Linked DNA regions of Homo sapiens: region 1 is linked to region 2. Evidence: fine-mapped expression QTL. A gene starts in region 2. The other region holds a variant in brackets. All regions are shown on one strand. Distances are from middle to middle. Region 1 has its middle 15 kb from the start of RUNDC3A-AS1. Region 2 holds the start of GRN (granulin precursor).

Region 1 (5,377 bases), 52 kb after region 2:
TACACATGTGAGCCACCAAACGTGGCCAAATATAGAGCCCTTTCATTGAAGTGGGGGCCAGTTCCCTTCAGGAAGAATCCTACAATGCCATGGCAAGTTTATATCATGGTAATTATCCTATTCTTCCCCCAAAGGTACTTACAGCTGCTTATCAGAGCAACTGCATCCTGGGGAAAGGGAAATACTCAGATCTTTCAAGGCTTTTGGATACAGAGTTGGAACTGACACTAATATTAAGGAACCAAAATGCCATCATGGGCATGTATTAGTGTGGGGCATATGGAGGCCAGGTGATGAAAGGAGATCTGGCCCATCAGTCTGCTTGATGGTTATTTCCCTGGCCCCTGAATACATAGTGGAATAGAGGTACTTAGTAGATAGCAGATCTCTCGCGTTGGTTTCCTGAAATAAGAGCCATTACCACACCTGTAATCCCAAGTGTGGAGGCCAAGGTGGGAGGATCACTTGAGCCCAGGAGTTTGAGAGCAGCCTGGGCAAAATAGTGAAACCTCATCTCTACAAAAAAATTTTTTTAAATTAGCTGGGTATCGTGGCACACTCCTGTAGTCCCAGCTACTCAGGACACTGAGGTGGGAGGATTGGTTAAGCCAGGGAGGTCAAGATTGCAGTGAGCTGAGATTGTACCACTGCACTCCACCCTGTGTGACATAATGAAACCATCTCCAAAAAAAAAAAGAATGAAATAAGAGTCATTAGGGTAGGAAAGGCCAATTAGAAATTGCTTCCTCATCTCCCTCCCAAGAGAGTTAATCAGAAGCAATGCCCCAGCCCAGGTGGAATGGCAGTGGTTGGAGTCACTCACAAAGGATATAAAAGTGGTGGTTCCCAGGATATCCCCATTTAATTCATCAATCTGGCTCTTGCAAAAACCAGATGGATCATTGTAGATGAGGGTGCACATAACCAAGTGGCGCCCTGATTGAGTGCTGTGCCAGATGTGTTAGCTTTCTTAGAACAGATCAACAGAGTCCCTGCCATTTAGTCCATGACTGTTAATTTGTTGAAGGAAGTAAGATTAGAAGCAGATTCCTGCCAGGCTCGGTGGCTCACGCCTGTAATACCAGCACTTTGGGAGGCCAAGGCAGGCAGATCACTTGAAGTCAGGAGTTTGAGACCAGCCTGACCAAGATGGTGAAACCCTGTCTCTACTAAAAATACAGGAATTAGCCAGACGTGGTGGTGGGTACCTGTAATCCCAGCTACTCAGGAGACTGAGGCACGAGAATCACTTGAACCCGGGAGAGGGAGGTTGCAGTGAGCCGAGATCGAGCCACTGTACTCTAGCGGGGGCAACATAGCGAGACTCAGTCTCAAAAAAAAAAGCCGATTCCTTTCCCTGAGGACAGACAAAAGTCCACATCCACAGTCTTACCCCAGGGCTATGTTAACTGTCCTGCTTTCTGTCATAATAGAGCAGAAACCTTGATCATCTTGGCATTCCACACAACATCACACAATCCATTGTACCGACGACATTGAGCTAATGGAACCTGGTGAACAGAAAGTGGCAAGGCACGTGCTTGCCAGAGGTTGGAGGATAAATCCTACAAAGACTCAAGGATCTTTGCAAAATTTGTCAGAGTCCAGTGAACTGGCACCACCATGTGTCTCCTATCCCTAGGAAAGATGCACAAAGCCTGGCAAGCCCCTTCAGATATGGGAGATGGCACATGCCACACTTGGAAATACTGCTCCAACTAATTTTCAGGGAACTCCGAAGGCTGCTGGTTTTGAGTGGGGCCCACAACAAGAGAGGTTTTTTTCAGTCCAGGCCAAAATGCAAAGTTCCCTGCCACTTGGGCTCATATAGCCTAGCAGATGCCATCTATCTATGATTCATAGGATGCTTTGGGGAGTCTCTGGCAAGCCCAGAAGGTTCTGGAGCAAGGCCATGCCATCTACAGCAGAGGACTGTTCCGGTTTTAAAAAATAATCTTCTGGCCGGGTGCATCGGCTCACACCTGTAATGCCAGCACTTTGGGAGGTCAAGGGATCACCTGAGGTCAGGAGTTCGAGACCAGCCTGGCCAACATGGTGAAACCCTGTCTACTAAAAATACAAAAATTAGTCAGGTGTGGTGGTGCACGCTTGTAGTCCCAGCTACTCGGGAGGCTGAGGCACGAGAATGGCGTGAACCCAGGAAGTGGAGGTTGCAGTGAGCCGAGATTGTGCCACTGCACTCCAGCCTGGGTAAGAGAACAAGTCTCTGTCTCAAAAAAAGAAGTCTTCGGTTGTGCTGCAGAGACCTGACCATTGGACAGGTATGGTGATGTGATCAGAGCTGCCCATTGCGAAGCGGGAACTGTCAGATACACCAAGTGACACAGTTGAGCAGGTGCAGCAATAATCCATCCTACCATGGAAATGGTGCATTCCAGATGAGGACTACTCAGCCTAAAGCGCACAAGTAAGTTACATGAACAGGCAGCCAGACCCCCAGGGCACGTATCCCTGTTGCAGCTATGTCTCTCCCTCAACTCACACCTTTGGCCTCATGGGGAGTTCTTTATCACCAGTTGACAGAGGAGGAAAAAAAGCCCCAGATCTAATTTACAGATAAAATGGCTTCCTAGGTTGGTGTGGACTGAAAATGAACTTCAGCCACATCACAGCCACAGTCAAGGGTGGCCCTGAAAGGCAGTGGTGAGGGGAAACCCCCTTGATGACAGAGCTGCTGACATTAGCACCTGGTCAGCAACATAAGGTGGAAGGAAAAGGGCTTTGAGCTAAGGATATACACAGATTACTAGGTAGAGGCCAGAGTCTTGTCTGATAGGTCAGAGACCTAGAAGGAGCAAGGCTGGAAGATCTGAGACGGGTTTTTGTGAGGGGAGGACAAATGGATGGATTTGCTGGAGTGAGCACAAAGTTTGCACTATGTCTCTATTGGTACCCCACGGTGAGCATCCTTTGCAGAAGGGGTACTAAGCAACCGGGCGGACAAGATAGCCTGGTCAGTAGATGTCCTTCAGCTTCTTTTTATTTTTATTTATTTATTTATTTTTGAGACAGGACCTCGCTCTGTTGCCCAGGAGTGCAATGGAGTGATCATGGTTCACTGCAGCCTTGACCTCCCTGGGCTCAGATGATCCTCCCACCTCAGCCTCCCAACTAGCTGGGACAACAGGCACACACCACCGTGTCTGGCTAATTGTGTGTGTGTGTGTGTGTGTGTGTGTGTGTGTGTGTGTG[TGC/C]AGAGACAGGGTTTTGCTATGTTGCCCAGGCTGGTCTCGAACTCCTGGGCTCAAGCGAGCTTCCTGCCTTGGCCTCCCAAAGTGCTGGGATTATAGGTATGAGCCACCGCACCCGGGAGACAGAGCTTGCAGTGACCTGAGATTGCGCCATTGCACTCCAGCCTGGGTGGCAGAGCAAGATTCTGTCTCAAAAAAAAAAAGCTACAGTATCTACTTGGAACTAATGGTCATTATATGGTGCTGTGTCTGCTATAGCTAGAATACATGGTTCCAGGAACCTAGGAATAGAAGTTGGAGTGATCCCCCTCACCATCCTTCCCAGGAACCCACTGGGAAATATATGTTTCTCACCCACACTACTTTTTTTTTTTTTTTTTAATTTTGTAGAGACAAGGTCTCACTATGGTGCACAGGCTGGTTTTAAACTCCTGGTATCAAACAATCCTCCTCCCTTGGCCTCCCAAAGTGCTGGGATCATAGGCATGAGCCACTGAGCCCTGCCTTTTAAAAAAAAAAAAATAGAGAGGGACAGCTGCTTGCTGTGTTGCCCAGGCTGAACTGCAGTGGCTATTTACCAGCAGGATTATCACACAAAACAGTCTTGAACTCCTGGGCTCAAGTGATCCTCCTGTCTCAGCCTCCGGAGTAGCTGGGACTACAGGTGTGCACCACGGTGTCCAGCTTTACCTCCTGCCACTTTATACTTTGGTAGACTAGTGATCATGATTGGTGATCCTGATTCCCAAGGGTAGGTGAAGGGAATGCTTCTACCAGGCCACTCAGTAAGGATTCCACTAAAACTGAAGCTATGGCTGCCTTATGATCGTTTTGAGCTCCTCGGGCCAGTAGATCAGCAGACAAAATAAAAAGAAGCTACTCTCCTGGCAGGGTAATCAACCCTGATTATCATGAGGAGACAGGGTTGCTGCTATATAATGGGTGCAGAAAGAATAAATCTAGACCTCAGGGGATTGACTGGTCACCTCGTGTTGACTCCATGAGTGATGATAACTGAATGGGCAACTGCAGCAAAACCATGATCTGAATGGATATGGAAACCAGGGGCTCAGACCCATCAGGAATACCCCCTGAAGCAGCATCATTCACCATAGCCAAAAAGTGGAGACAACCCAAAAGTCCATCAGCTGATGAATGGACCAACAAAATGTATTATATGCATACAATGGAATATTATTCAGCAATAAAAAGGAATGAAATACTGATACATGCTACAACATGGATGACCTTGAAAATATCATGGTTAGTGAAAGAAGCCAGCCACCAAAAAACCTATATTGTATGATTTTTTTTTTTTTTTTTGAGATGGAGTTTTGTTCTTGTTGCCCAGGCTGGAGTGCAGTGGCACAGTCTCTGCTCACTGTAATGTCCGCCTCCCAGGTTCAAGCGATTCTCCTGCCTCAGCCTCCCAAGTAGCTGGAAGTACAGGCTCCTATCACTATGCCCAGCTAATTTTTGTATTTTTAGTAGAGACGGGTTTCACCATGTTGGCCAGCCTGGTCTCGAACTCCTGACCGCAGGTGATCTGCTCACCTCAGCCTCCCAAAGTGCTGGGATTACAGGCATGACCCACAGCGCCCAGCCTATATTGTATGATTTTATTTACATGAAATGTCTAGAATAGGCAAATCTATAGAGACAGAAACAATATTAATGGTTGCCTAGGGCTGGAGGGAGGAATGAGGAGTGATGGCTGATGGGCATGGAATTTCTTTTTGGAGTGATGGAAATACTCTAAACTTAGAATGTAGTGGTTGTAGAACTCGGGGAGTAATAAAAGCCACTGAATTGTGCACTTTAAATGGGTGAATTTTATGGCATGTGAATTATACTTCAATAAAGATGTTACAAAGGAAACTTATAACAGTATACTTCCATTTCTTCTGTCCCTGACTTTGAATATTGTTGTTAGACATTTTACTGTAGTTGGTATATTCATGCATATTAATGAGATTGGCTATTTTTTCAGATGCTTATTGAGCCAGGTGAGGTGATGTGAGCCTATAGTCCCAGCTACTTGGGAGGCTGAAGCAGGAGGATTGCTTGAGGCCCGTCCTGGACTGTAGTGCGCTATGCAGATCGGGTGTCCACACTAAGTTCAGCATCGATATAGTGACCTCCCAGGAGTGGGGGACCAACAGGTT
Region 2 (5,377 bases):
ATCCAAAGTAGTAATTAATACCTTTACTTTTATTTTATTTTTAGAGATGAGGTATTGCCATGTTGCCCAGGCTGGACTCAGACTCCTGGGATCAAGCAATCCTCCAACCTTGGCCTCCTACTAAGTAGCTGGGACTGTGGGAGCGTGCCACCACGTCTGCTCACCCCCTTTTTTTTTTTTTTTTTGAGACAGTCTTGCTCTGTTGCCCATGCTCGAGTTCAGTGGCACGATCTCAGCTCACTGCAACCTCTGCCTCCCAAGTTCAAGCAAGTAGCTGGGACTACAGGCGCTCGCCACCACGCCTGGCTAATTTTTGTATTTTTAGCAGAGAGGGGGTTTCACCATATTGGTCAGGCTGGTCTTGAACTCCTGACCTCAGCTGATCCACCCACCTCAGCCTCCCTAAGTGCTGGGATTACAGGCTTGAACCACCACACCCAGCCACACCTTTATTTTAAAGGAGGAAACTGAAGCTTAGAGATGTTAAGTACAGTCAGCCCTCCATATCCAACCAGGGATCAAAATATATTGGGCGCGGTGGCTAACGCCTGTAATCCCAGCACTTTGGGAGGCCCAGGTGGGCGGATCCCAAGGTCAGGAGTTCAAGACCAGCCTGACCAACGTGGTAAAACCCCATCTCTATTAAAAATACAAAAATTAGCCATGCGTGGTAGCGCACACCTGCAATCCCAGCTACTCAAGAGGCTGAGGCAGGAGAATCGCTTGAGCCCAGGAGGTGGAGGTTGCAGTGAGCAGAGATCACGCCAACATACTCCAGCCTGGGTGACAGAGTGAGACTGAGATTCTGTCTCAAAAAACAAAACAAAAAAACCCCTGAAAATGTTACATCGTTGCTGAGTTATACAATGTAGTTAGGCTTACGATGGGTGCATCTATACTGAACATCTACAGATAGTTCTTTCTTATTATTCCCTAAACAATTCAGGATCACAACTATTTACATGGCATTTCTTTTTCTTTTTCTCTTTTTTTTTTGAGATGGAGTCCTGCTCTGTCACCCAGGCTGTAGTACAGTGGCGCGATCTCAGCTTACTGCGAACTCCGCCTCCCAGGTTCAAGCAATTCTCCTGCCTCAGCCTCCCAAGTAGGTGGGATTATAGGTGTGCGCTACCACACCTGGCTAATTTTTGTATTTTTAGTAGAGATGGGGGTTTCACCATGTTGGTCAGGCTGGTCTCAAACTCCAGACCTCAGGTGATCCACCTGCCACGGCCTCCCAAAGTGGTGGGATTACAGGCATGAGCCACCACGCCCAGCCGACATGTCATTTCCATTGTATTAGGTATAAGTAATCTAGAAATGATTTAAAGTATGTATAGGTTATATGCAAATATTACACCATTTTATCTCAGGGGCTTGAGCACCCACAGATTTTGGGGTCCTGGAACCAGTTCCGTGAAGATACCAAGGGACACCTATAACACGTCACACATCAGGTCATGGTGACGTCAGGCTTTGATGGCCCCAGAGCGTATTGGACCTGGGTTCATATCACTAGTGGCACGATGGGCAGTGCCTGGGAATGGTGCAACAGGTACAACAGAAACAGGGTACAGGGACTGCCTGAAAATCGCACTTGGGTCCTAATCCTAGAATTGCCAACTGTGAGGGCCTGAGAAGTTGCTCTCTGTCTGTGCCTCAGTTACCCCACGAGTCTAGGTGTGGATACCACTGCGGGGGGAGGGGCAGGAAATCTCACCCACCCAGTCACTCACATCCTCTCTGCTCCACCTGGCTTTCCTCAAGTGCCCCTCCCCTAACTCAGCATCCCCAAGAGGCCACCTCCTGGACAGATAAGGATGAAGTTCACTGGTCCTGGACAGTGGACCCTCTCCTCAGCCCCACAGCTCCCAGGCAAAGCACCTGCAGCTGGCACCGCCTGCTTCCTGGGTGTTCTCAGCAGGCTGTCCGCTGCCATGGCTTGCTGGGAAGGGGAGTCTGTCTGCACAGGAGTGTTCGGCTCCCTGGTGAATTACCTGTGCATGTGGCCCCTCCTGTTTACCCTAAATTGAGGGAGTATAGTGTATGCTTCTACTGAATACAAGCACTCGCATACAGAAACAGGGATGAGGAGGCGAGTCGCAGTCTCTCATGCCACCCTACACCGCCAAAACAGCCAGAGGGGACAGCAGCCTCTTCAAGACCCTAGCTCCGTTATCTTCCACTAGGTGGCACCCCCCAACTCCGAGTGCCAAGGGGAGAGGAAATTCCCAAAAGGGGAGCCAACCTAGCTGCAAATGAGCAGGAAAAAGTGGCTGGGAGAGGCGGAAGCTAGCTCGTCCCACCCGCAACAAGAGGAAGTAAGGAGGAGCCAGACCAGGTTCAGTCACCACTCCCAAGTCCCTACTACCTTCGAGAAGCCAAGGTCTCAGGTCTCGTTCCCAGGCCCTCGGAGCTCCCAGCCCAGGGTCGCGCGCCCCTCCGGCTCCAGGCCGCCGCGGGAACCACCCACCACCACCAGGAGAGGGGAAGAAGCCAGCACCTACCGACAGGGGTGGAGCTGGGTCAAGAATGGTGTGGTCCCTGCTTTGGGGGAATGCTGGGGAGGTAGAAAGCCCCTTCTAACGGGGCGTCACTGCAATTACTGCTTCCTCTTTCCCATAAAACTCCCCCTAGTGTATCAGAACCCCCAAGGAGTTTCAGTAAGCGGTTCTTCTGTTGTCTCCGGCTGAGACTCCAGGGGAACCTCAAGCTCACATGGCCCTGGCGGGCCCCTGGGCAGGAGCAGGCGAGAGGTCTGCGCGGCCGCTCTCCTACCTGCGTCCGACTCCGCGGTCCTTGGGCAGCAGCAACCGGGTAGCGCTCAGACTACAGACCCCAGCGCGATGACCCGCCTACCTCAGTTTCCATTGGCCAGGGATCAGGGCTACCCGCTCCCATTGGCTACTTATCAATATAGAGGTGGGGCCAGCCTGGAATGCTGTGTTTCTTTTCTACTCAAATCACTCTCCTCCCTGCTTCCTCTCGCCCCACACCCCATTTCTAGGGATCATGTGATTGGAGAATCATGTGACGTCGGGACAGCCTCAGCAGGGCAGCTGGTGCTCGTCGCCTTCCTTAACCCATCCTGCAGGCGCCTGGGGGAGTTTGCTAGAGATGATAGCGCGTGTCTGGGGCATTGACAGTGCGAGGGAGTGTTATGAATTGGGAATATTTGTGCTCGCCTTTCTATCCTTTTGTTTGTTTGTTCTGAGACGGAGTCTCACTCTGTCGCCAGGCTGGAGTGCAGTGGCACGATCTCGGCTCACTGCAACCTCTGCCTCCCGGGTTCAAGCGATTCTCCTGCCTCAGCCTCCCGAGTAGCTGGGACTACAGGCGCGCACCACCACGCCCAGCTAATTTTTGTATTTTTAGTAGAGACGGGGTTTCACCATGTTGGCCAGGATGGTCTCGATTTCTTGACCTCGTGATCCGCCCACCTCGGCCTCCCAAAGTGCTAAGATTACAGGCATGAGCCACCGCGCCCGGACTTGTGTGTTTGTTTTAGAGACAGGGTCTCGCTCAGTCGCCCAAGCTGATCATAGCTCACTGCGGCCTGCAACTCCTGCTCCCAAAGCGATTCTCCTACCGCAGCCCCCCAAGGCGCTGGGATTACAAATGTGAGCTACTGAGCTGGCTCGCTCCTATCCTATCCTGCCCTGTCTTGTCCTGTCCTGTCCTGCCCTATTCTGCCCTATTCTCCAAACTCGGTTGACATGCTAGGCAGGCCCCAGAGTGAGTTGAAGGATGGTTTCCAGGACAAAGATAAACAGCCCCAAAGCCCTTTCCTCAAGGTGCTCAGCAGGACAGGGAGCAGGGATTGGTGGGAGACAGTCTCAGGCTGAATCTAATTTAAGATACAAGGTTGTGCGCCAGTTGCCAGGTGTAGGGAGAGGAAGTAGATTGTCTCCAGGTGGGGAAGAAGAGATTTCATTCCACCTTAGGAGCATCTCCTTGAGCTGAGTCTGGGAAGATTTTAACTGGCAGGTGGAGGAGGAGGTGTTGGGAAGAGCCCTGGGAAACCAGATGGGAAGGGCAGGCTTGGCAGGGATTGAATGCCATGTTCAATGCCAGTGGGCTTCAGGAGCTGCTGGGTGCCTGGCACGGGCTGGGCTGTGGTGGGGGCTGTCGAAAGAGAAGTGGCTTCCTAGTCTCCAGATCGGCCCTGCCTTCGAGGAATTGATATGGGAGGGTGAGGAGAGAAAATGTACCACAGAACAGATTAGCCAGTGACAAGAGTCAGCCTGCTTGGTGCCAAAGGGCCTGGGCCAGGCAGAGATGGATGATGGGAGATGGGCCAGGAGAGAGGAGAGGCCCAGGGAAAGCCTGATACTGGGCCGTGGAGGAACGGCAGTGTCTGCACAGGGGATGGAGACTGCTGCAGCCTGAGCAAGGAACTGGAGCTGAGGATGAGGCAGGGGCAGGGGGATGGCTAACCAAGCTCGAGGCAGCAGAAGTCGGAGGAGGGAAAGGGTGCCAACCGAGCTGTGGAGTCGTGTGGCAGGGGTTCTAAGCCTGGAGCTAGAGCAGACCCAGACAGCGGATAAGACACCTGGCCTGCTGAGGACCTAGTACTAGTCTGTGCCCTGGTGACACATTTGTGCTTATTTTCCTTCCTGTGTATCTTGAGACTAGGGAGTATAGTTTATGCTTCTATTGAAACACACACACACATGAAACTTTCATGAAATGTTAGGTGAATCGATCAATAACCTACTAATTACAACCACCCAGAACCAGAAAAAAATACAGGTAGAAGAAAAAAAACCTAAACAGACTGAAACAAATATCACAAAGTCTAATCGTCAAAGCCGTGATTCTTGAGCAGCGGCAATTTTGCCGGCCAGGGACATTTAGGAGTGTCTGGAGACAATCTGGGTTGTCACAACTCAGGGTGGAGGGACACTGGCATCTGGTAGGTAAGGGCCAGCAATCCCACTAAACATCACACGACACACAGAACAATCCCCCACAACAAAGAAGTATCCTGCCCAAAAGGTCAATAGTGCTGAGACTCAACAACCTACTTCACAAATGTTTCTCTCTCTCTCTCTCGCTCTTTTTTTTTTTTTTTTTAACATCAGAAGGGTAAGGTGCCACGATAACGAGGTCTGTAATTCCCTACTCAGGAGGCCGAGGCAGGAGAATCGCTTGAACCCGGGATGCAGAGGTTGCAGTAAACCGAGATCGTGCCACTGCATTCCAGCCTGGACAACAGAGCGAGACTCCATCCACCCCCGCCAACACAAAAAAATTAAAGTGTACAACTCAATGGTTTTTAGTGTCTTAAGAGAGTTATGCAGCATCATTACAATCAGTTTAAGACCATTTTTATCACCACAGAAGGCAGCCTTATGTCCTTTAGCAGTCACCCTCC

What was found. PIP is the estimated chance that this variant, and not a neighbour inherited with it, causes the effect.
Region 1: its variant is fine-mapped to the expression of GRN in whole blood (INTERVAL, PIP above 0.99).

What each region holds. Positions count from the first base shown.
Region 1 is chr17:44,290,988-44,296,364 of GRCh38, reverse strand. It overlaps the pseudogene RN7SL507P. Among named protein-coding and RNA genes, the nearest start is that of RUNDC3A-AS1, 15 kb to the left of the region's middle. The variant TGC/C (reference allele first, on the strand shown) is at 3,214.
Region 2 is chr17:44,342,736-44,348,112 of GRCh38, reverse strand. It overlaps GRN (granulin precursor), which reads right to left and starts at 2,811. Exons shown (of 13, transcript NM_002087.4): 1 at 2,779-2,811. RefSeq lists enhancers at 2,539-2,688, 3,840-4,765.